Linked DNA regions of Homo sapiens: regions 2 and 3 are each reported to be linked to region 1. Evidence: microRNA targets listed by miRTarBase, many of them from high-throughput screens and not tested one by one. Region 1 holds a microRNA gene; each other region holds the end of a gene's coding sequence.

What was found. Region 1 holds the annotated microRNA hsa-miR-7153-5p (UGAGAACUGACAAAUGUGGUAGG, at 4,804-4,826, opposite strand). A microRNA usually pairs through its seed, bases 2 to 8, with sites in the 3' UTR of a target mRNA and lowers its output. Matches are read on the target gene's strand: a 7mer-m8 pairs with bases 2 to 8, a 7mer-A1 pairs with bases 2 to 7 and ends in A, and an 8mer does both.
Region 2: miRTarBase lists MDN1 as a target of hsa-miR-7153-5p. Seed matches in the 3' UTR shown: 7mer-A1 at 3,130-3,136.
Region 3: miRTarBase lists NSL1 as a target of hsa-miR-7153-5p. The part of its 3' UTR that is shown has no 7-base or 8-base seed match.

Annotation. Positions count from the first base shown.
Region 1 is chr18:11,650,116-11,658,843 of GRCh38, forward strand. MIR7153 (microRNA 7153) reads right to left here and starts at 4,826; the gene lies at 4,770-4,826. RefSeq lists an enhancer at 7,636-7,805 and a cis regulatory region at 7,721.
Region 2 is chr6:89,637,838-89,646,565 of GRCh38, reverse strand. MDN1 (midasin AAA ATPase 1) reads left to right here. Exons shown (of 102, transcript NM_014611.3): 100 at 1-26; 101 at 1,409-1,551; 102 at 2,373-4,068. The coding sequence ends at 2,561. It overlaps LYRM2 (LYR motif containing 2), which reads left to right and starts at 7,819. Exons shown (of 3, transcript NM_020466.5): 1 at 7,819-7,894; 2 at 8,684-8,728. The coding sequence starts at 7,850. MDN1-AS1 (MDN1 antisense RNA 1) reads right to left here and starts at 8,034. Exons shown (of 4, transcript NR_111915.1): 1 at 7,930-8,034. RefSeq lists enhancers at 8,020-8,069, 8,290-8,519, 7,872-8,728.
Region 3 is chr1:212,732,529-212,739,528 of GRCh38, reverse strand. It overlaps NSL1 (NSL1 component of MIS12 kinetochore complex), which reads left to right. Exons shown (of 6, transcript NM_015471.4): 6 at 843-7,000. The coding sequence ends at 1,121. Among named protein-coding and RNA genes, the nearest start is that of BATF3, 36 kb to the right of the region's middle. RefSeq lists a silencer at 1,556-1,756.

The DNA of each region.
Region 1 (8,728 bases):
TGTGGAGAGATCCGTGTGTCAAGGAAACAAGGCTTGCTTCCAGCAGCCAGCAACAACAGCCAGCCATGCGAGTGAGGCATCCTGAAATTGGGTTTGCTGATTCCAGATAAGTCTTCAAATGACTGTATTCCAGCTGACATTTTAACTGCCATTTAATAAGAGACCCTAAGGCAGGACCACCCAACTAAATAGTCATGCCTTAATTCCTGACCCACAGAACATGGGTGACATAATAAATGTTTTTTAGTGTTTTAAGCATCTAGGTTTTAGGGTAACTTGTTATGCAGCAGTAAATAACTAATATATTTTGGAAGGTGGAGGCGGGATGTTACTGTAACAAAAACCTAAAATGTGGGAGATGCTGTGGATTTGGCAGTGGGAGGAAGCTGGCAGGACTTTAAGGAATGTTAATGAAAGCCTAAAGGACTTTCAAGGGACTGTTAGCAAAAGCATGGTGACATTTGAGAAGGTTGTCTGTGAGGGCTTAAAGGAAACTGAGGCGACTCATTGGAAACAGGTGGTTATGCAGTGGCAAAACGTATAGCAACGCTGTCGTCTACAGAATGTGGAAAATAGAAAATGTATCCTGTGAACTGAGTTTTAAAGGTGCCCCTGATTTTTTTTCCTGCTATTTATACTAGCAGGAACTGTTGGACATTCCCAGCCTCTCCATCTTCAGATGGCAAAGATGCTAAAGGTAAGAACTGGCTTCTTATCAAAGATCATACATATCCAGGGCCCTCTCAAGAAAAGAAGATCGAAAGATGACATCCAGTGTGTGACTGCAAAATCCCAAAGAACTGTTCAGTCAAACAGCAGGACTTCTGCATATGTTAAAGGTGTTGCCATTTAGCAGTCTCAGTAGCAGCCTAAAGGTAAAGAGAAAGATTTATTTTAAAGAGATTTACGGGCGTGACTTCTGTCAAATGGAATGAGCCCATCAAGGAGGCTCCCAGCTACTGGAAAAGAATTGCTTTGGCAGAAACACCAGCTTGGACTGAAAGGGACAGAGGTACAAATGAAAAGTGGCTTTGAACCCTCAAACATTTGCAGGCAGGAAGACTGAAAGACTACTCAGTTTCAAACGTAGTCTACAAAGGAGGAATGACGGAAACATGGAAATAAGGCCGGCAGGGCAGAGCCAAGAAGCAGGGAGACTCATTCCCAGACAGGAGTAGGACTGAGTCCTATTCACGTAACTTTCAAACTGTGCCCAGATGGATTTCAGAATTGGTATGGACCAGTGATTCCTGTACGGCTCCCATTTCCCCTCTTTTTAGACAGGAACGTCTTAGCAGCTATCTTGTGCCTGTCACATCATCATATGTTGGATGTGTGACAGGCAAATAATTTGTCTCTTTCATTCATAGATCCTCAGATCAAGAGAAACTGGATCGGAGTAGCCTCAACCACACTTGGGCCTGATTCAGATCTTGAGATCCTGGATTTTTCAAGGTGATGCTTTTACAGGATGAGACTTTGGGGGGCATTGAGATGACTGTAGTTTGCATGCAGGAAGGACATGAGTCACTGGGGGTGAGAGGGCAGACTATGGTAGCCAGTTTCCAAGAGAAACCCAATGCCCCCGACCTCCTGGTATTCATACCCTCATGTATTCTCTTCCAAAATGAGCATGGCTTAAGGGTGTAACCAATAGGATATTGCAGAAATCATGGAGTATGACTTCGCAGGCTAGGTAACAAAAGATATTTTGGCCTACCCTTAAGTTCTCTGGGATCACTCATTAGTGGGGTAACCAATGACCATGCCATGAGGACACGTCAGCAGCCCTGTGGAGAGGCCCATGCAGCAAGGAGCTAAGGGCACCTGCCGACGCCAGCCCCATTCCAGCCTGCCAGTCATGTGAGTGGGACATCCTGAAATCATTGCTTTAAGCATCCAACTCGTGGGGTGATTTGTTAATGCAGTGATAGACAACTAGTAGATTTTGGAATGCAGAAGAAAGGTACCTCAGTAACAAAAACTTAACATTTGGGAGAAGCTGTGGATTTGGTGGTATGCAAAAGCTGGAGTGTCCACCCCCTGTACAAAGCTCTCAGCCACTGTGGTGCTGGTGGGGTCCTGGCTACAGCTTCATAAGAAGTTTCTAGTTAAGCCACTCCCAAATTCCTGGTCCACTGAATCAGTGCAAGGTAATAGATATTGCTGCTTAAGACCACTGAGTGTTAGGTAATTTTTTTATGCAGGAATAGATAATGTTTCCCAATACAAAAGTATAGGGAAGCAAAGGGAAATTGGAGAATATTGAGGAATGAAAGCAGAGGTAGCACATGGGATTTAAAACAACCCATTGTTTTACATAAATGGGATCATATTTTATTTACTATTCTATGACATATTTTATACTTAAATTTTATGTAATTTTTTTCAGTAAAAGGAAATGACATGGCATTTTCATGATTTTTAAGAAAGGAATAGTTATTAAAATTTTATTGTGTGTGGTTTTCCTTTTTTTTCTTTTTTTTTTTTTTTTTTTTTTTTTGACAGAGTCTTGCTCTGTCACCCAGGCTGGTATGCAGTGACGCAATGTCGGCTCACTGCAACCACCGCCCCCCAGGTTCGAGTGATTCTCCTGCCTCAGTCTCCCAAGTAGCTGGAATTACAGGTGCACACCACCACGTCCAGCTAACTTTTTGTATTTTTACTACAGTTGGGGTTTCAACATGTTGGCCAGGCTGGAGGGCCCCTTGAACTCCTGACCTCAGCTGATCCACCCGCCTCAGCCTCCCAAAGTGCACCTGGCCTATGTGTGCTTTTCCAAACAGAAACATTAGTTCCAGTGAAAGAAAAAAAAAGTGGGGTACACTGCACCACCAGGAAAGAAATTTAAAGTATACCACAATCAAAAAAATGAATTAACAACCTTATTTTATTCTTAATAAATAAGACGAGAGGATTTTTTAAAAATCCACCTACACTCCTACCACAGTGATAGTTGGTTTTATTTTCCTCACGTTTTTTCCAGGTTTTACTCAAAAGTATTTGATTTTACACGGTTAAAATCAAACACACAAGTTTTATTCTTTGCTCGCTTAATGGTACATCTTACAGATTTTTCATGTTATTCCACAGACTTTACGTGTATCATTATTACAGATGTATGACAGTCCCTTCAGTTTCTTCAAAAATTTATACATTTCTCACTTTCCAGCCAGATGTGCAAAGAAAATGTGGGTTCTTTATCCTTTATAAACACTTGGATATTCTCATGAGCCCACTCCACCGGGAGTAAGGAAGGACACATAAACTTTGAACTTGAAACTTTATGTTACCACAGTCCCTGCCCAATTTCACGAGCTCTTGGGTGACTTCTGAGGCGGGTAAATAACGTTTCCTGCTTCTTCCACTCTCTTGCTCTTCTCCAAGAGGATGTGGGCCTGGAGTGGTGCCCATGCCTTCGCAGCGCTGGAGGCCTGTGCTCCTTCCATGGGTCCCCACCTTGGATCCTGTCCTGGGTGCACATTGGCTGGTTCCACTTAAGTGAGAGTGAAATGGAATCCAGCTGAGAAATGTGACTTTCCCTTTAGTACGGGCATCCCTCCCAAAGAGCCTGGCTGTCTCCCACTGCTGGCGAACCCCACCTCAGCTCCTGCTGTGCGGTGGGGCCTCTTGGCGTCCACTTGTTACATTGCAATCCCACCTGCCCCCAGTCCAGGCAGCTCACCTGGCCGCTCTCATCTGCAGGGCCCCTCCAACCCCACCTTGGCAGACTTCTAGGGCAAGCTCCCCAGCAAGTAGCTCAGATCTACCCTGCATCCCTAGGACGTCGGGGTCCCTTCCCACGCCACACAGCAGCTGATGCTGCTCTGGCACTCAAGCTTGTGCTTCATTTCCATTTGTAATCTAGGGAAGGCCCTTGCCCCTGTGCTCTCTTCGCAGGAATTCTGAAATGAGCAAGGCCAAATGCCCTCTTCCACAGGCCTTCTAGCCAACCCGTCTAAAGCACCTCCCTGCTGTGCTTCTGCATCCCTGCACCTGCCTCTTCTGCTCCCGTGGTGGCAGGATGGGGAGCAAAACCGAAAAACATCTGGGAAAGAACGCAAAGGAAGACAAAAAGCAAGCAGGACCCTTACCACAGGAAATAAGCAGCTGAAATGAAGGGGGAAACCAGGAGCATTGATCGAGAGCATGGGGAATGGTCTAGTGCCCCAAACAAAAAGTGTTAGGTGCCCACTGGCTTCAGCAACATGCAGGTACTGGGGGACCTTGAAATGATGCCGTTTCGGTGGAGTGGAGATGAGGAAGTCAGCCAGCCTGCAGTGGCTTCGGGAACAAGTCGAGGCAAGAAAGGAAGACAGTGGATGTAGACACTGCTTTCAAGAAATTTGACTGTGAAGGGAAGGAAAGATATGAGATATGGAATGCAGGTGGCAAATGCAGCATCCAGTATTTTGGCTTTTTGGTTGGGGCAAAGGTAAATTCAACACTGATGAGAGCCAGCCAGTAGTGAGGGGAAGGCTAGCAATTCAGACAGCGTCTTTTCTGCAGGAGGGAGGTAGGGTTTTCTGCTAAGAGAGTAAGCAGCAGGGGCAGGAGGATCAAAGGACCCGGGTACCAAGAAGTTTGGAAAGAGCTTCCATGCTTAATGCAGGAAAAGCGGAATGAAGACATACAAGAATTACCAAGGAGTGCTGGATGCGCAGACGGCCTCAGCCAGCACGAATTGACTGGGGCAGTGACCTGGAAGGAGATGGGTGCACCTGTGTGCTTCCCAGCAAATCCCGACTTCAGGGTCCGGTCACAGAAGTGGTAAACCGTCCATGGTGTGGATGACTTCGACCACCTACCACATTTGTCAGTTCTCACCACACCGAGCACAGGAGCTCGAGTAAACACGCTAGCTGGAATGTAAGCTCCAGGAAGGCAGGACGGTGCTGCCCACCATGACACAGCTGAAGGGTCCTTAGAAATCACCTAGTCAAACCACTCCATTGACAAGGAAACCCCCAGTTTGGAGAAGGAGGCCGGAGTCAAAGGCAGACCTCCTGAGCTCCACTCCCAGACCTTTCGCCAGCACGGGGTGACCTCCAACTCCCTCAGAGAACACAGCCCTCCCCCTTTGGCTTCCAGCTGGAGCGTGAATTCCCGAAGGACAGCTTCACTAGATGCCCAGATTTAGGAAAACTGTAAAGCAGAAATATCATTCCATTTTTAAAGCAACACAACCTCCCCACGTGATAGCTATTAGTAAATAGCTCACAGCTGCGAGGAGGGGCTCCAAAGGACACAACACCCTGTGCCATGGGGTTTCCACGAAGATACATTCCTAGGTGTGGGCACGGTACTCCTCCCCTCCCTGCGGCAACGCGACGGGATGGCACCGGCGCGCTCTGGGGTTCGGAACGAGGCCAGCAGGGGGCGGTCTACACCACTGAGTGTTTTCCCAGCTCGGTTTGTTGTTTGGAAGGAAATTCACGTGTGATCAATCACACCTTAAATATCTTCTGTAGCTATAAATATCAAACATATGTTTTCTAAATGGTTTACACTCCTTATCTCCCCTTTTATAAGTTCAATAGTAGAGAGGTCGTGGTGAGGGACAGAGAAGGAACACCAGACCTGGGTCCGCTGAAGAAACAAGCCCAACAGGAAACTGCCAGGCGAGACCGCTCAGTTGCCTCCCAAACACAGATGGAAGACAGGATTTTCTGGAATCACAGCAAAAGAAAAAAAAAAGCCTCAGCTTTGAACATCTCGACAGCAAATTCAATGTCTAGTCTTTATTATTGAGCAAGTTCCCTAAAACTTCAAAGAGGTAAGCACATCAAAAAAGTACTAAGTATGAAACCCTGGGAATATAAACACATAAGAGACATCCTCCTGTCTTTGAGGAACTGATAACAAAGGGGAAAGAAGATACTATCTCAGGAGTGCTCTGAGCGTGGTTAAGGGCGTGATTCATCCCTATTTAATCAATATAGCTAGGGAAGAAGATTCCAACTAAGCATGAAAGAATAGATGGGACTCCAACCAGATTGTGGAGCACTGGAAACCAAGATAGTACATGTAGCCATTTTTAAGTTTGAATAGCAATTATCTTTCTAGTACGTAATCAGGGTGCAAAGCTTATACCCCTCATAAAAGAGTTTACTGAAGTTCAGCTACAACTTCCAGGTCAACACTTCTCCCCAACCAACCCACCTTTTACTTTGTCCCTCCCCCAAGGGGCTCAGGCCCACTACTGGGGGTAACTCAGCAGGACATAAGCCAAAATTAGGCCATCAGTATCGTGCTTTGGAACGGATTTCATTCTCGATTTTTGAATCCCTTGAATCTCTGTGGTATTGTTAGGAAGGATGGTGTCCTTTATATAGCTTTCCATAAAAAGTGTCTGATTTGTCTGGATGTCCAGCACATTTTAACAAACTCAAGCCTCTAGACCTGGGAGCTGGACCATTGCTTCTACAACAAAGGCAAGTCAGACACAGGGATGGAGCCAGTTCCTCTGGTCTCATGTGTGTGGGGGCCTTCCTGTGCCAATGAATCTACCTCTACCACTCACCCCACCCTAGCTGCATCCCAATCAACAGACAGAGCTTGGTGTGGTGGCACCACCTGTAGGCCCAACTACTCGGGAGGCTGAGGTGCGAGGATCACTTGAGTGCAGGAGTTGGAGGCTAAAATGAGCTATGATCATGCCCCCCCTGCACTCTAGCCTGGGCAACATGGAAAGACCCCATCTCTAAAAAATAGATACAATACAAAACAGACACCAAAAAAGAAGCACCAGAATTTACTTTGTTCTAAGGGATATAGGCTTTGTCACTTCAACAGTCAGGTCATGGGAGTTCTCAGAAAGTGTTTTGACATTTGCTCCCTAGCAGAGGAAAGTCATTTGTGAAACTATTTTTAAACAGCAAAACTAAAAAGGTGGGGTGCCATCTCAGATGCTCATTAGACATTGAGTCCAGAGCTGCTTTGGGGGGTAAGACAGAGACACTGTGCTCTAAATACCAGCACAAGCATGAAGGACAGCGACCACAATCTGTGCAGCCAGTCCACTTCTTTAGGAAATTCGATTGTAAATACTTTGGAGCTGATGAGCTCTCCTGTGTCATCTTCATATCATGAAACCTAATAAAGGTCTCCGAATGCCTGCTTCCCCAGCACCTCCACACAGTAACAATTTCTTGCAGTTTCCATTTCCCTCAAACCTCCCACTGTTGCTGCCACCCTATGGAAGATGATCTTATCTCAAATACTTCAGAGAAAATCTGAAGACGCCGGTGAGGAATTCTGACGCATCCTGACGCCATTTCACCAGAGCCTGTGCGCAGCAATGCCACTCACTGCATCTTTTTTTTTTTAAAACTAAAACGAGAGCCCTTTCTTCCTATCAAAAGGCAGCACTTCTCTAGATGCTTCCGAGTAGCCCTGGCCCACCCAGCCTCCTCAGGCACTCCACTCCCTTTTTCCCTCTTTCTCATAAAACCTCAGCCTTTTCTCACAAAATGCCTCTCCATTGGCATCCGTGCCTGCTCTCCTTTGCCCCTGGGAGCCCCCCCCCCAGGATTTGGTCCCCTCCAGCTCCTTGCTCTCTCTTCCCACCGGAGCTTTGTTTTGATTCATCTGGCCATCCGTCCGTCCACTCTTCCTCAGCCCCACTCCTCAGCACCCCCCAGTCGGACATCCAGCCACTAAAACACTCTCCTTTAGGCCAGCAGAGGCTTGCGTGATGATAAGCCTGCCATCTTGCTCAGTTTCTTCATGGCTCTTGGAAGCCTTGCACACCGCTAAGCTTCTTGAAACACCCACTCCCCGGCTTCCTGAGGAACCACTCTCTGTTTACCCTCTGACCCTCTGGCCACATTTTCTGAGTTTCCTTTCAGAGCTCCTGCTCCTTCTCCAAGCCTAGTTTGAACATTGGAATTTATCAAAATCCTGCTTTCAACTCACTTCAGTTCTCACTCTGTGATCTCTCTTCAAAGGTCTCACCCACTCCCATGGCTTCAAACATGTTCACAATGCCAAATTTCCGTCTCTCGACCCAATCTCTGCTCTGAATTCCAGCCCTCCAGATCAACTCCCAACTGCACATCCCCGTGTGAAGGTCTCACATTGCCTCAACCTCAGAAGGTCCCAAAACCAGTGCAGAGTCAGCCTCCCCCCAACACAAGCTCATCCCACTTCACAAAATGGTTCTTCCATGGGAAAGTCATTTGTGCTGAGGACAAACTCATCCTTGATCCCTTTGTCCCTCCGCACTTGCATCCAACATGGCATTGAGTCCTACCCATTCTGTGTCCTAAATATATTTCAACCTCATCCACTTTTCTCCGTCTCTACTCCCTGTAACCTAACCAAAGCAACTATCATTTCCATGGCCTGACACTCCCAAGAGCATCCTACAGGCTTTCTTTCCCCCATCCGTGCTCCAAACAGCAGCTAGTTGGGAGAACATTACTTCCACAAACTTTTAAGTCACTGAAACCGTGATCTTCAGCGTGGTGTCAGGCCCCATGCAGTCTCACCTCCAGCCAGTCCTCCTCTGGGACACATGCCCCAGACACAGGGCTGTATTTTTTATTCTTGGGTGCCAAGCTTTCTTTGACCTGGGAGGTTTCTTTCATGGGTTTGCTGTATCTCTAACCCTCTTCTTTCCTGCCCTCCTAATTCCCTTCTCCATCTCTCCTTCCCTCCTCCTCTATCCAATCCAACCAGACCAATTCTTTTCGTACCTTAGAGTCTTAACTTGAATGTTTCTCTC
Region 2 (8,728 bases), not on the chromosome of region 1:
GCAGCTCTCGCAGAACATCAGTTCAGGTGAGCTGCATGCCTTCCTCTTCATTAACAAAATGCTTTCTTGTACTCTATATTCCCAAGCTGCTTGCTTCAGCTCAGTGTCCCCGTCACTGTGTTTTAATAGGTATGCTCCACAGGAAAAGACATAAATTGATGGAGCTGATTTTTACTTATTTATTCATTCATTCAGAAATTTTTGTTGAACCTGTACTCATGAGGCTTATAATCAATGGGGGATCTAGACACTAACTAGTATATACTTACTTGAGTTCAGATTTATAAGAGAAAGGAGCAAGGTGTGTGTGGAATTAAATATAAAGGCTACAATTAACCCTTGAATACCACAGGTTTGTCTGTACAGATCAGGTCTACTTACACATGGAGTTTTTCCAACCAAAAGTGGATTGAAAATTCAGCATTTGAGGGATGCAAAACCCGAGTATATGGAGGGCCAACTTTTCATGTATGCGGGTTCTCCAGGGCCATCTCTGGACTTGAATATGTGTGTATTCTGGTATACTGGGGGTGAGGGGGTGTGTGTCCTGAAACCAGCCCCCTGCAAGTACTGTATTCTCTAATATTTTAATAACAGAGGAAAGTAGAGAAGGACATAATATAAAAACCAGCTAATCCAACCACATTTACTTTGGGGGCTTGAAACATGCCAATTATTTAGTTCTTTTCCAAAAATCTCTCACTGTTCTCAGTGTATCATGCAGAAGCTTCAGATTTTGATGGAAGCAAGTTATTCACACCTGTCAACATTTGCTAAAACAGCCCACCCTCAACTCATGTACTATATAATCTTTAGCTGGAAACACTATGTAGCAAAAATTTTAAAACATTTTATTCAGTGTTGAGTGTTTCCTTTCTATTTGTTTTTGTTTAAACAAGTCAAATTTCAAGGGCAAAAAAATATAGAAATTAGGTACAAGGAATTAACAGAAATCTAAAGATGATTATATGTAACGACTGAAATTTGGAAGACACAGTTCCAGATTTCTGATTTGGCCACTTTCTTCTAATGCCCTTCTCAGTACTATCATTTTTAAAGTTTATAGCCATAAACTAGTGTTTTAATTCTCATGTACAGTATGTTGCTCTACAATTTGAAGTTGAGCAGAACTTAACATTTCTTGAAGCACTATTGAGAAATTCTTCTATACTGACAGAAGCTTACTTAGTATCCCTTATTATGCCTTGTCTCTGACTCAAGCATTCTAAGGGATAGATCTCATCAGAGGTCCCTTAGGTTTGTGCCCAGAATTCATCAGCTTTAGAGGTCTGTTTAGCTTTAATAGTACAGAGAAAGCCTACACTAATTTGTCCTACTTTGGGTAGTTGTGAGTTATTAAAAATGGCTGTTCATTTTATTCCCTTGCTTCGTCTTATATGGTCTACAGAAACTGCACAACTCCTCCTGGTAGTCTCTGATGGGCGAGGCCTTTTCCTTGAGGGCAAAGAAAGAGTCCTGGCAGCAGTTCAGGCTGCCCGGAATGCAAATATCTTTGTCATCTTTGTTGTATTGGACAATCCCAGTTCACGGGTGAGTGACTACTAAAAGCCACCTTTTCTGGAGGTAAAGTGGGGATTCCCTTCAACCTGTTCAATCTGAAATATGGCCTGGATCACTCAGTCATACTGAGAACTCCCAGCATTCATAGTATTCTGTCAAGTACCATTGTAGGCACTTGTAAGTATTTTCTCTATTAATCTTTGCAATAAGCCAGTGAGGTAGGGATCATTATTCCCACTTTACACTGAAGGAACTGAAACACATAGAGGTTATAGGTAATGAGTGGGAGAGCCAAGATTCAGAATGACCATCCTCTGTGGGTCATCATTTCCCTCTATGCAAAGTCAGTGCAGGTATTGCAGCCTTGATAATGGGTACTGACCACTTTGAAATGGAGATTAGGTGTTGCCACACTTAACTTATGTCTCAGTAGCTCCTCACAGCAAGAAGCATCAATCATCTTAGTGAAATATGCCTATAGGGCAGTTCTGTTCCAGGGAAGCATTGTCTCTGTGGGTCACATTAAGGCCTTGATAGGAAGGTAAAGATTTAGTGTGAATGATTCCAAGTGGATGATGGGGAGACACCACTGTAGGGAAAGCAGATTTTCCTGTCTATCCCTTTTCCTTTTTTTCAGTGTCCATCCTCCTGGAAGGGGCACTCAGAAAGACATCTACCTCCTTCTTAGTAGAGTTCTGAAAATTCTCTTTTACTTAGTAATAAAAGGTAGGTTCATATGCAGGAATAAGACACAGGAGATGTAAAAGTTAGCAAAAGAGATCACAGAAGAGCTAGCTAAGGATGCTGGTTTAATCGCTGCCTCCCCATTTCAAAATGTCTTTTGTTGACAGGATTCTATCTTGGACATTAAAGTACCGATATTTAAAGGACCTGGAGAGATGCCTGAAATCCGATCCTACATGGAAGAGTTCCCATTCCCATACTATATCATTCTTCGAGATGTAAACGCACTTCCTGAGACACTCAGCGATGCCCTCAGACAGTGGTTTGAGTTGGTGACAGCCTCTGACCACCCATAGAACAGAAAGAAGAGTCCAAAGTGAGACTTAACTGTGGTCAGAAGGTCACATTGCTTACCCAGGTGCTCCCTTTTGGACAACTACAAAAAATTTTATTGTAATATTTTTATTTTACAACGTGATCTTACAGCCTACAGAATGCTCTCTGGCTCCCGGCTTTGCCTGGGCTGAGGTTTTTATACCAAACCTGGAAGCAGCAGCAGGTGCCTGAACTCGTAACTAGAGAAGAGTTATCCTTCTTCCCTGCCTTGGAAGCCCTGGCCTGGGAGGAGGTCATACCCCACCGTTGGAGCCCAGCTGCCTGTTTTCTTTTGCAGGGGATCTGGGCACCTGTGCCTTGAGGAGATGCTGCCAGGAGCATGGGACTCTGACAGTCCTTTGTATAAAGGACTAAAGGGAGCTGCCCTTTTGACCCTGTTCTAAGCTCTGCCTTGCCAAGCCCATAGTGTGTGCCCAAAAGCTGTCAAGTGGCCAAGACAGCTCGTTTCTGGAGAGTATGAGGGTGTGTTTTCTTATTGTGAAAGGAACTACCTTCTCTTAGAGGGTAGGAAGAATGTGGTGTGTGTGTGTTCTCATAAAGCAACTGGACATTATAGGTGCCCAGGTCATCTATAAAAACGATCCTTGGGCTGTGTAAAAATGAAGTGGCTTTTCAGTATCCTCTTTCACACTTGCTGCTTCGGGAGACTATGCAATGATGGGAAGGTGATTGCCCCTTTATTTCATTCAGTGCCATGGTCCCTGTTGTTGTAGTAATTTATTTGTTTAGTTCATTTTTTTTTTTCTTAACAGTCAAGGGGAAGAGTGATTCCTCACACTGCTTTCAAGCTGGACTGAGCCAGTCTCATTCTGGGAAAGAAACGCTGTGTCCAGAACTCAGCAGCTCCATCTATTTTTTCCAGTCGAAAGAAACTGATCTTTAGGCAGTTTTTACTTGGCCAGAAAGCAGTGCTGAATACTTGAAACTGTGTGCTCTGTTCTACTTAATGTTCTGTCAGAATGTTCTTTTGTAGGCAGTATGTCATGATGTAATCATCTATCTCCTTGTCTGTTTCCAAGTTACACTGTGAAGTCTGCGACCCTTTTGAGGTGGTCATCAAAGACACAGATTCCTTGTTTAACCAAGTGTCCCAAAGCATGTACCTGAAGTTATATCATTTTTTATTCTAAAAAGCTATGCAGCTTATATTCTGAAAACTATTAAAACATATACCACTGTTGTTGATGTAATTTGTGACTCTTCTTAATGGAAGATGACAGGATTGTAAAAGGTATGCTAGGGGACTGATCTTCTCTGCTGGATCAGTCAGTCAGCTGTTACTAGTTGATGCTGTGCTAACATGATCCCCTCCTACTTCCATGTTGCTCTTACTACAAAGGTTATCATTTGCATTTATGTCCATGGTAGGCTGAGCTATAATATGCTGGCTTTGCAGCAGAATGAAAAGGATGAGTTGGTGTAGCCTTATAAGGAGGCTTATAAAAATTAATTATCCTCCATAAATGATGATGTTGCATCCCACTCACATTTCATTGGCTAAAGCCCTCTATGGGGCAGGGAGTTTAATCTTCCAGTAGGGTTGAGTCTGGGAGGGAAAGACACCAATATTATGACAATGCTGCAGTCTATTACATCTGCCTTTGGAAGCTCCATCTTTCTTAGACCTCAAACTGGTGTGCCCAGAGTGATTCCCTTGGCCCTGGGTTAGCTCATGAGATCATGGACAGTAGGAATTCCAGGAAGCAGGAACCCAAGAGTGCCATTTTCAACTTGTGCTGCCAACAGGGGCTTGCAGGAGTAGTGATCAATTAATCTGCCATGTTGATAGTTGACATTTGTGCTATCCTGCCCACCCCCCCCTCCCCCAACCCCCCAGGCCTTGGCCAAATAGGTAAGTAAGTAAGTTCTGATATTTAAGGAATGGACAGCAGAACACAAAAGTCCTCCATGCTGTCTTAAAAATCTCACTTTGGGGCTGGGTGCAGTGGCTCACGCCTATAATCCCAGCACTTTGGGAGGCCAAGGTGGGTGGATCACTTAAGGTTAGGAGTTAGTTTGAGACCAGGCTGGCCCATATGGTGAAACCCCATCTCTACTAAAAATACAGAAAATTAGCTGGGTGTGGTGACGCGCACCTGTAATCCCAAGCTACTTGGGAGGCTGAGGCAGGAGAACTGCTTGAACCAGGAGGTGGAGGTTGCAGTGAACTGAGATTGTGCCACTGCACTCCAGCCTGGGCAACAGAGCAAGACTCTATCTCAACAACAACAATAAAATCTCACTTTGGATAACTTCTTCACCACTCCCGTGGCCTCCACCATCACTGAAGCAAAAGGACTGTAAAATTCTCCATCCAGGGGTCCAGGAAATCTACTCTTTGGTATTCTTAATTATATTCAGACATCTGCTGGATGTCACTGTGTTCTAATTCCCCTATTCCAAACCCATTCCTTCAACATTCCCCATCTGGGATGACCACTCCAACAGCCACCCTGTTTACAAACTTGGGACTTAACCTATACATCTGCTTTACTTCCTTCTCCATCTCTATCCATACCCCAATCAAATTAATTAATCATCTTGTCCAGTCAGGCTTCTGGATATCCTGTCCCATCCCTCCCCCTCCCCCTACTGCACTGTGACTGGGACTCTTTTAATCTCTAGCAGGGACTACTTCAATGGTATCCTGGCCAGGCCAGTAACTTCTCTTTGCTTGCTTCACTTCATCCTATTCACAACATCCAAGATCTTTCTAAAAGTTCTGTAGCTGAAAATCCCTTCAAAGCTCTCCCTTGTGAAGAGGGTAATATTCAAGCTTCTTCATGTGACCTGTGAGGCTCTTGCTTGACTCTCCTGTCCCTCCTCTCCCAGCATTCCTGCCAGTGTTTCCATGTGTTGTCTGGAATCCTCTTAGTGATTCTGCGTTTCTGACAAATACCTAGCTCAGACAAGCCCTCCAGGAAGAATAATTTCCCACAGTATGAACTGCAGCATTCTTTGTTAGCACTATATTGAACTTAGAGGTTTTCCTGCCCAAAGCATGAGTCTTTGAGCAAGGAGCATATGTGACTCACGACAGCATTACCAGTGTCTAGCAAGAGTGAGCCCTTTTTTTTTTTTTTTTTTTTTTTTAAATAGAGCTTTGCTCTTGTTGCCCAGGCTGGAGTGCAATGGCGCAATCTCGGCTCACTGCAACCTCCGTCTCCCAGGTTCAAGCGATTCTCCTGCCTGAGCCTCCCAAGTAGCTGGGACCACAGGCGTGCGCCACCAGGCCCGGCTAATTTTTTGTATTTTAGTAGAGACGAGGTTTCACCATGTTGGCCAGGCTGGTCTCGAACTCCTGACCTCAGGTGATCCACCTCGGTATCCCAAAGTGTTGGGATTATAGGCATGAGCCACCGCACCTGGCCTGAGTGTTTCTTGATGGGAAGAAGAAATAATGTAAAAATGTCTTTCTCACATATTAATGTATAGATTCAACACTACTTCAAAATTCCAACCAAGATCACAAGATGATTTGGAGGGAAATGATACAAAACATTTCTAAAGATTATAGAGAACAGTACTAATGGATTTTTTACAAGAAACTAGAGTCCTGCCAGATAATAAAAACATATAAAACAAAAAGTAAAAACTTAACCCTAAATGAAACAATTCTGGACAGATTACTCAGACCCTAAAAGAATTTATCATACAGTCAAAAAGGCATCCATCATAAAGCCCCGAAAAAGGAATGAGTTATGTAATCAATGGTATTGATACAGCTTAACATCTAGAAAAGAACTTAGATCCACGTGATGCTGTAAACCAAAGTAAATTCTAGATGGAGTAAATATTTTAAAAATTAAAGTTTTTAAAAAACGAATTACAAAGGCCTGAATGGGAAATGAAAAGCCTCAAAAGGCACAAAAATACATGATTGTATAAAGTTTCTGTATGTATAAAGAAATGACAAAAAATATAGAGCCCATATAAATGTCCTCATCATAAACGGACCCAAGTCATGAACAATTCACAAAAACAGTATAACTAAAAATGGCGAGGGGTATTTAACTTCACTCCTTTTAAAAAGTTAGCAATTAACTATTACAGCTAATGTATTAGACAAAATTTGGCATATATTATTGATAATATGATCATGCAGTTAGCATCATTCATACAATGCCTGGTAAAGTTCAAAAGAGCTAATGATTAGAGTTCTTACATGTGCCAGGACCTGTTCTCAGTACATTAGAGATACACAACTGAGGTAGATGCTATATTTCACTTTACAGGGGAGGTAATAGGCCAGGAGAGGGGAAATAGCCAGAACACAGCTAGGAATAGGGAGCCCCAGGATGCTAACAGGCGAGGCAAGCAAGTCCCCAGTAAACTAGTAATTGAACATTTTTCGTTCTATTTTAATTCGATACAACACCACTTGGAAAATTAATATGGCAAAGATTCGCTAACTCCACTTCTAGTGATTTAACCCAAAGGCATGTGTATTGTGGGAAAGATAAAACAACTATAAGGAAATAAAAGCAAAAGCCTGAGGCTTAGGGATGTTAGGCTCCTCGTTATTAGTGATGAAAAGTGCTTAAGACTGAAGTGGGTGAGCCATTCAAAGCTTTGTTTCAAATGATCATGAAGGCCACCGCTCCCGGAAAACCTTTGCGCTACAAAAGAACAGGACAAAAACGAGAAAGAGAAAAAACCAACACAAACTGTAAAAGAAATTAACACTTTCAATTTTAGTATTTTCAACTATACACATTTTTAAAGGCTCGAAAGAACATTTAAATACGTTTTCACCTCTTTCCCCCAAAAAAACCTTAACTTTTTTTTCGAGACAGGGTCTCGCTCTGTCGCCCAGGATGGAGTGCAGTGGTGCGATCTCGGATCACTGCAACCTTCACTTCTCGGGTTCAAGCGATTCTCCTGCCTCAGCATCCCGAGGAGCTGGGATTACAGGCACCTTACAGGCCTCCCAGAGTGCTTGGGACTGCAGGTGAGAGCCACCGCGCCCGGCCTCCTTCACTTTCATTTGAACTCTCTTTACCAGGAACTGTGTTAAGTGCCCTACCTTTCTTCTTTATCAAAACGACCCTATGGTGCACTGTTATCCTATTTTACCGACGAGAAAACTTCGGCCAGCGCAGCAGCTAGGGCTCAGTCCCGAAGCCTCGCGCTCTCAGTCCGAGAGCAACCCGCGGGCCGTCTCCTAGGAAACCGGGCTCGCCACACCCCTTGGTCGAACCCCACTTCCGCTCCTGCGCGCTGAGGCTCCGGCGGACCTCTGGTGGACATGGCTGCTTCCCGCTTACCCCCAGCGACGCTAACGTTAAAGCAGGTACCGGCGGTTCTCTGCCTTCCAAAGCAGCTTACCTGGGTCTGAGCTGGATTCTCCATCTGTCCCTATCCCCAACGGGGCGGGTTCCGGGGTCCTGATGCGGCGTGCGCGCCCTCTGAGATTGGCCCGATGCCTGCGGGGCGGTGCTTCGCTCCGCGGGGCCTGACGGGAGGCACTGGCTGCTTCCTTGGTTTGGTGCGATCGCGTGAGACAGCGTCAGGCGCTTGATTTCCCTGAGTCCCGGTGCCTCAGCTGCCCAGTGCCCACGGTAAAAGTCTATTGCACTGAGCTGTGGCAAACAGCAAATGAGATTACCAAAGATTTGAACAACTGTTAATTTAGAAAAAGTGCTGTCGTTGTAATAACAACTTCTAGGAGACCGGCAGCCCTTTTCAGCCCGGTAGGCAGCTCCTGATTTTTTAATGGTTCTTAGGTTTGACAGAGCAGTAAGCAAAAAGATCAGATGAACCTCGTGATGCTTTCTTTAAAACATCTTTTTGAGACAGGGCCTCACTCTCGCCCAGGCTGAGTGCAGTAGCGCAATGAAGGCTTACCTCAGCTTAGACCTCCTGGGCTCAAGTGATCCTCCCATCTTGGCCTCCCAAAGTGCTGGGATTACAGGCCTGAGCCACTGCATCTGGCCAAAAAAAGAAAAAAAAAAGTTTTTCTTTGCCTTTTTCAAAATTGACCAACGAGAAGTACTCTGGTTACAGCTTGGTTTGCTGAAGTAGAACTTTCCAGGCTGGCGATTGTGCAGTAGTAATTGCTATTTACTCCTCCCTTTTACAGTTCGTAAGAAGGCAACAAGTTCTTCTCCTCTACAGAAGGATTTTG
Region 3 (7,000 bases), not on the chromosome of region 1:
AGCTATGTGCTAAAAAAATTATCAAATGAACAAAATGTATGGCTAGGTATTTGCATTCAACATTCATATGTGTTTTAGTCTGCTCTAACAGGAATTCTCAGCGGTCCTTTAAATAAATCTTTAATGAATTTATTAAGCAACAGTAACATTTAGAATAGCTGCCATTTATCAGGTACCTACTATGTGCCAGGTAATATACCTGTCTTCTTTAAAGGTTGATTATATTTTTGTGTTCTGGGTGTTAGCAGTTCACCGAACAGTTTTGGATAATAATACCAGCTAAAATGTATTGAATAATTGGTATGGGCACCATCCAACTGCTTTACATGTATTGTCTCATGTAATCCTTACATCCTATGAGACAGATACTGTTATTTCTTTTGTAGATGAGGAAGCTGAGGCACAGAGAGGCTAAGCAGGTTGCGCACATAAGTAACCTACAATCCAGCATTTAAAGCCTGGATCAGCAAGGGCACAGTGGCTTACACCTGTAATCCAAGCACTTTGGGAGGCCAAGGCAGTCAGATCACCTGAGGTCAGGAGTTCAAGACCAGCCTGGCCAACATGGTGAAAGTCCACGTCTACTAAAAATACAAAAATTAGCCAAGTGTGGTGGTGCGCGCCTGTAGTCCCAACTACTCGGGAGGCTGAGGCAGGTGAATTGCTTGAACCCAGGAGGTGGAGATTGCAGTGAGCTGAGATCACACCACTGCCCTCCAGCCTGGGCAACAAAGCAAGACTTCTCAAGAAAAAAAAAAAAAATTAGAGTACTGCATCCATCTTTGTCTGTTTGTGTTTCAACCTGAGATTAATGTTGAATATTACTGTTTGTTTGTTTGAAGTCCTTGCCTGCATTAATTGAACAAGGAGAGGGATTTTCCCAAGTTCTCAGGATGCAGCCTGTTATCCACCTCCAGAGGATTCACCAAGAAGTCTTTTCCAGTTGTCATAGGAAACCAGATGCTAAACCTGAGAACTTTATAACACAGATAGAAACCACACCAACAGAGACTGCTTCCAGGAAAACCTCTGACATGGTACTGAAAAGAAAGCAAACTAAAGACTGCCCCCAGAGAAAATGGTATCCATTGCGGCCAAAGAAAATTAATCTTGATACATGAGCTCTTTCTGTTTATTTTGGGAGTTGAAAATAGGCACCATCAACATTTAGATTACAGCCTAATTAATACCTAGATAAGACTTCATTTGAAATAAGAAATAACTCTTTTACTAGTGATTCATTTATACAGATATAGTATCTCTGTGCGGGGATATGATATAATATTGTATTTCCTTACTGTTTTATCTATTGTAAATAAAAAGCATTTTAAAAAGTATTGACACAAAGCCCATCAGTGGGCATTAAAAATATTAAAAGTGCAGACTTTTACTGTCCTTAAGTGCCATCAACTCTCAGCTCCCTTGTAGCTTTTGTGGGATTTAACAAGTAACAAATTCTGTTGTGTTTCCCTGGTATACATCTTTCTAGGAAAAAAAAAAAAAAGAGAGAGAGCTGTATAATGATTTTTCGTTTACATGCTGAAAAGTAATTATCAGTTCTGCACAGCAGCAGATGCAGGGTTTTTTTTTAAAGATGTAGTTTGATTTATCAAATTAATGTGCTGATGATAATACTGGCTTTGACTTTGTTACTCCATGTTCAGCTAATTTAGGTTTGTGAGATTAACTTTAGGATTTTTTGTTGTGTAAGACAATGATAACTATTATTTGTGCAACATTACTCTTTGAAATAAAAATTGGCATGTAGCCAATGTTTCCTGCCCACACTCACTTTTTTCTATAGACCATTAACATAATTTGACTTGGAACTAATGGTTTCTTTTTAGGGTTTCTTATTTATTTCTTTACAAATCATTCCAGTTCAAAATATATATCAGATTAATACACTGGCAAAGTGTCATTGTGTTATTGAACTATTTCACATTTGAAGATGTTTATATATCAGGTATATAATCACTGGGAGAAGTCTGAGAAAACGATATTGGCTTTACTTCTAACATTTAACTATAGTTTCTTATAGCTCTTATTGTGTGTCTTACATTATACAGTGTAGGCAGGGCCATCAAACTTACCAACTGTTTCCCCTTTTGATGACTCTGATACCTTCATTCATTTTTCAAAGGAATTTACTGATCATGAGGTTGGAAAATCTGTATTTCTCTTGCTTATTATGTATTAATAATCATAAATGTCTAGATTCACCAGAAGTCACCAGAAGGTCTGTCTCAGTGAAGAAAACTTATAAAGCCACTTTGTTGCATTTTGTGTTTCAGTGTTACAGTTTGAGATCTGTATATTTGTACACAGCTATGTGTTTTTCATTGAAATAATGTACAAAGACTGATCTTGATGCTGTGTATTTTTATGAGTTGTCTTAGGCATTCCTGAGCTCAGCTTCAGTTGGATGGTGGGTCAGCACCCTGCGTTTCTGAACATACTAGACTTCAGTTTAAAACTGTTTTGAGGCTGTATAATATGTTGCTGTTTTTACAGTGCTAATGTTTTTATAGTATTAAAATTCTGTATGATTTGTTTCACTTCAGAGGTCCCCAAACAAAAGAGTTATTGTTAATTCTATTAGATTATATAAGCTACTTGCATTTTGATTATATAAGAACATGGTCCCTCCCTTTTAAGAGAGGTATATTGTGCTACATAGAGTTTTTAAATGACATGATAGATTTGCTCTGAAGTATTCAGCAGAGAAACAAGGAATCGATTAAGGAAATGTGACAAAAATCCTGTTAATGTTGAATCTGTGTAATGACTATATTCTACTTTGTGTTGGAAATTTTTATAAGTTTTTAAAAAATGGTTATATTTTAAAGTCCCCAGGCAGACAGCTGAGATTTGAAATCCTCTTGAGAGCCCAAAGTTTTACTCCATAGTTATAGCAGAGTTTAAAATAGAAATACCACTGGGAAAGACAGTACGTATTAGCATTATTAACTAAGAAAAGCATGACCAATAGCAGTAATAATATTGAATAAGTATACTGTGTAAGAGGAGAAGTTGCATTTCTGCATAGGCCAAGAACTAGTAAGCTAAGGATTAAAAGCAAGAAAGTCTGTAGTTTTAAGGAATTGGAAAGGTTGAAGGAAAAAATTGAAAATCAAATCTTGCTCTATGATAAAAAGAGTCTGGATTGAATAGGGTCTTAAAATTATCTTTCAGAAAAGAAATAGCCAGGCGCGGTGGGCTCATGCCTGTAATCCCAGCACTTTGGGAGGCTGAAGTGGACAGATTACTTGAGCCCAGCCTGGGCAACATAGTGAAACTCCATTTCTACAAAAAATACAAAAATTAGCAGGGTGTGATGGCACACACCTGTAGTCCCAGCCACCCAGGAGGCTGAAATGAGAGGATCACTTGAGCCCTGGAGGCAGAAGTTGCAGTGAGCCAGGATGGCACCACTGTACTCCAGCCTGGGTGACAGAGTGAGACCCTGTTTCAAAATAATAATAAGAAGAACACAAGAAGGTTAAGTCTAGTCCCAAAGAAGAGAGAACACTGTCAAAGCTGGTTTCTGAAAACTGGTACCAAAATCTACATTTGTTTATTTAGGCTACTATAACAGAATACCACAGGCTGGGTGGCTTAAACAACAGATACTTACTTCTCACAGTTCTGGAGGCTAGAAGTCCATGAGAAGGTGCTGGCAAATGCAGTTTCTGGTGAGGGCTGTCTTCCCGACTTGTAGATGACCACCTCCTTACTATGTCCTCACATGGCCTTTCCTCAGTGCATGCATGTGGAGAGAGGGACAGAGTGCAAGCTCTCTGGTGTCTCTTCTTATAAGGACACCAATTGTATCAGATCAGAGCCCCACCCTTATGGCCTCATTTAACCTTAATTATTTCCTTAGAGGCCCCATCTCCAAATACAGCTATAGGCACATGGGAGTTAAGGCTTCATCATACAGATTTTAGGGGGACACAAACATTGAGTCCATAACACAAGCCCACAGAAAATCTTATCCTAGACCTCTTTCCCTGGCCCTTTATGGCTTGGGCTCCGTAGAGGACAAAGTGAATAAAACCAAATTTTTTATTGCTTCAAACAGTATGATTTCATCTTGTAAGATGTACTTTTTCTTTTCTAAGGCTGAATTTGTTTGATTTCTGGTGAACACCTATCTTCTCTATCCACCTTCATTCATTTATTCATCTGTTCAACACATACAGTTGGACACCTACTCGGATCAAAAGTCAGAGATCTTAAGAGCACAGCCTCTAAGCCAGATCATCTGAGTTCAGATTTCAGTTCTACCATTATTAGTTCAATGATATTGGACAAGTTACTTAACCTGTCTATGATCAAAAGTCAGAGATCTTAAAGAGCATAGTCTCTGAGCCAGATCATCTGGGTTCAGATTGCAGTTCTACCATTATTAGTTCAGTGACATTGGGCAAGTTACATAACCTGTCTATGCTGCAGTTTTCTCATGTGCAAAATGGGGATAATAATTATGCCTACCTCATAGCGTTATTCTGAGAAGTAAATGAGTTCATAATGTGAAGGCCTTAGACTAATAACTGGTGCATATGAGTACTCTATGATCACTGTTATTACTTCTTTTGATAAAGGAAATGAAAACACTCAGGACAAGTGTTGCCTTCAGGAAGGTCATATTCCAGTGAAGAGGATGAGTGTGCAAACAATGATAATGCCATGCAGCAAATGGTATGATAGATGTATGTGTGGAACTTAGGGGAGTAGTCATGGAAGTCTTTGTAGAAGAGGTGGCATTTGAGCAGTCTTGAATGTTTTAGGCAAATAATCAGGGAAGGAATACAGGAATAAAGAACAAATTACTGTTATAACAATGTGGATCAATATCAAAGATACTATATTGAATAAAAGAAGCAAAGCCAGGCACAAGAGAATACATCCTGTGTATGGAATCACAGAATGGGCAAAACTAAGCCATGGTGGTTCCCTCTGGGGAGAGGGGAGATATTAACTGGGAATGGCACGGGAAACATTTTTGGGTGAGCAAAATGTTCTGTATCTTGATCTGAGTGGTGCTCACATGGCTGTATATGTATGTAAAATTTTGTTGAACTATACACTTAAAATTTCTGCACTTTATTTAAGTTTTATATTTTAAAAATGCACAAAACTGATTCACCAAATATTTGAGGAGCGTCTCCAGCATCAAAGACAGACCCAAAAACTGTAAGTCCCTTAATGGCAGGAATCTTTGTTCCATCCACCTGGAATAATTGCTGGCACATGATGGGCCCTCGATGCATAGTGGTTAACTGAGTGAATTAAAACAAAAACCAAAGAGAATAAAGGACCTCAAAGAAAACAGATACATACAAAGCAAAATCCCAGAATGATGACTGTACTCCCAGAAAGAAGAGAAAATCATACATTTTTTGGAAAATCGGAATGCTATTAAATAATGTTCAGTAAATAAGAAAAAGTTTTTGAAAATTAAAAATATGAAAGTTGAAATAAAAATTCAGTGGGAGGGCTGGGAGATAAAATGAAATTTTCCCAAAAATAAAACAGAAAGATTAAGAAATGGCAAATTAGAAAAGTAAGAATAAAGAGAATAAGTTCATAAAGTTCAAAGTCTAATCGATACCCATTCCAGAGATAGCATGCAGAAAAAGCAGCAGAGTCAAAATTATCAAAGAGATAATGCAGTTACCATATGGCCCAGCAATTTTACTCCACGTTCTAAACCTAAGAGAATTGAAAACATGCTCACACAATAACTTACACACAAATGTTTGTAGCAGCAGGTTGAACTTTCATGAACTGATGAATGGATAAATAAAATGTGGACTATCCACTCAATAGAATATTATTTGGCAATAAGAAGAAATGAGGTACTGGTAAATGCCACAGTGTAGATGAACCTTAAAACATGCCAAGTGAAAGAAGCCTCTCACAAAAGACTGCTGAATTTTGTAGACTCCATGTAAATGAACTGTCCAGAACAGGCAAATCTACAGAAACAAAAAATAGATCTGTCACTGCCTAAGGCTGGAAAGATGGAGAGGGTGGAAGGAATAGGAAGTGACTGCTAATGGGTATGGGATTTTTTTTTTTTTTTTTTTGTGAAACAAGGTCTTGCTGTGTTGCCCAAGCTGGAGTACAGTGGTGCTATCTTGGCTTACTGCAACCTCTGCCCCCGCAACTCAAGCCATCCTCCCACCTTAGCCTCCCAAGTAGGTGGGACTATAGGCATGCACCATCATGCCCAGCTAATTTTTGTATTTTTTGTAGAGACGGAGTTTCGCTATGTGGCTGGTCTCAAACTCGTGAGCTCAAGCGATCCGCCCACCTCTGCCTCCCAAAGTGCTGGATTACAGGCGTGAGCCACTGCGCCTGGCCTGGGATGTCTTTTGAGGGTGATGAAAACCCTCTAAATTTGATTATGGTGATTCACGACTGCTTGTTGAATATACTGAAAACCATTGAACAATACAGTTTAAAAGGGTGAGTGAGATGGTAAAGTATATCTCAATTTAAAAAGAGAATAAAGAAATAGAAATAACACAAGAAACATTCCCAGACCTGAGGAATACCAAGAGGAATTGGAATGGCATCAGATTACTAAACAACAATCCTAAAATCTAGAAGCATCTGGAGAAATATTCTCAGCATAAATGATATACAACCTAGGCTTTTATACACAGTCAAACTAATAATCAAGTGCATGATTAGCTAAAAGATATCTCAGATATGCAAAGCGTCAAAAAAAATTACCTCCAAGGCATCCCGTTTGGGGGTTCTACCAGGGGCTGTGCTCTATTCCAAAGGGTAAACCAAAAAAGCAGCAGCCATGGGATCTGGGAAACTAAGGCTCCCAAAACACAGCACACTCGAGTCTACAGGCTACTAACTAATCAGCAGATTTGGAGACTAGGCAGACCAGGTTGGAATAAGACTATGTAGGCCGGGTGCGGTGGCTCACACCTGTAATCCCAGCACCTTGGGAGGCCGAGACAGGCAGATCACC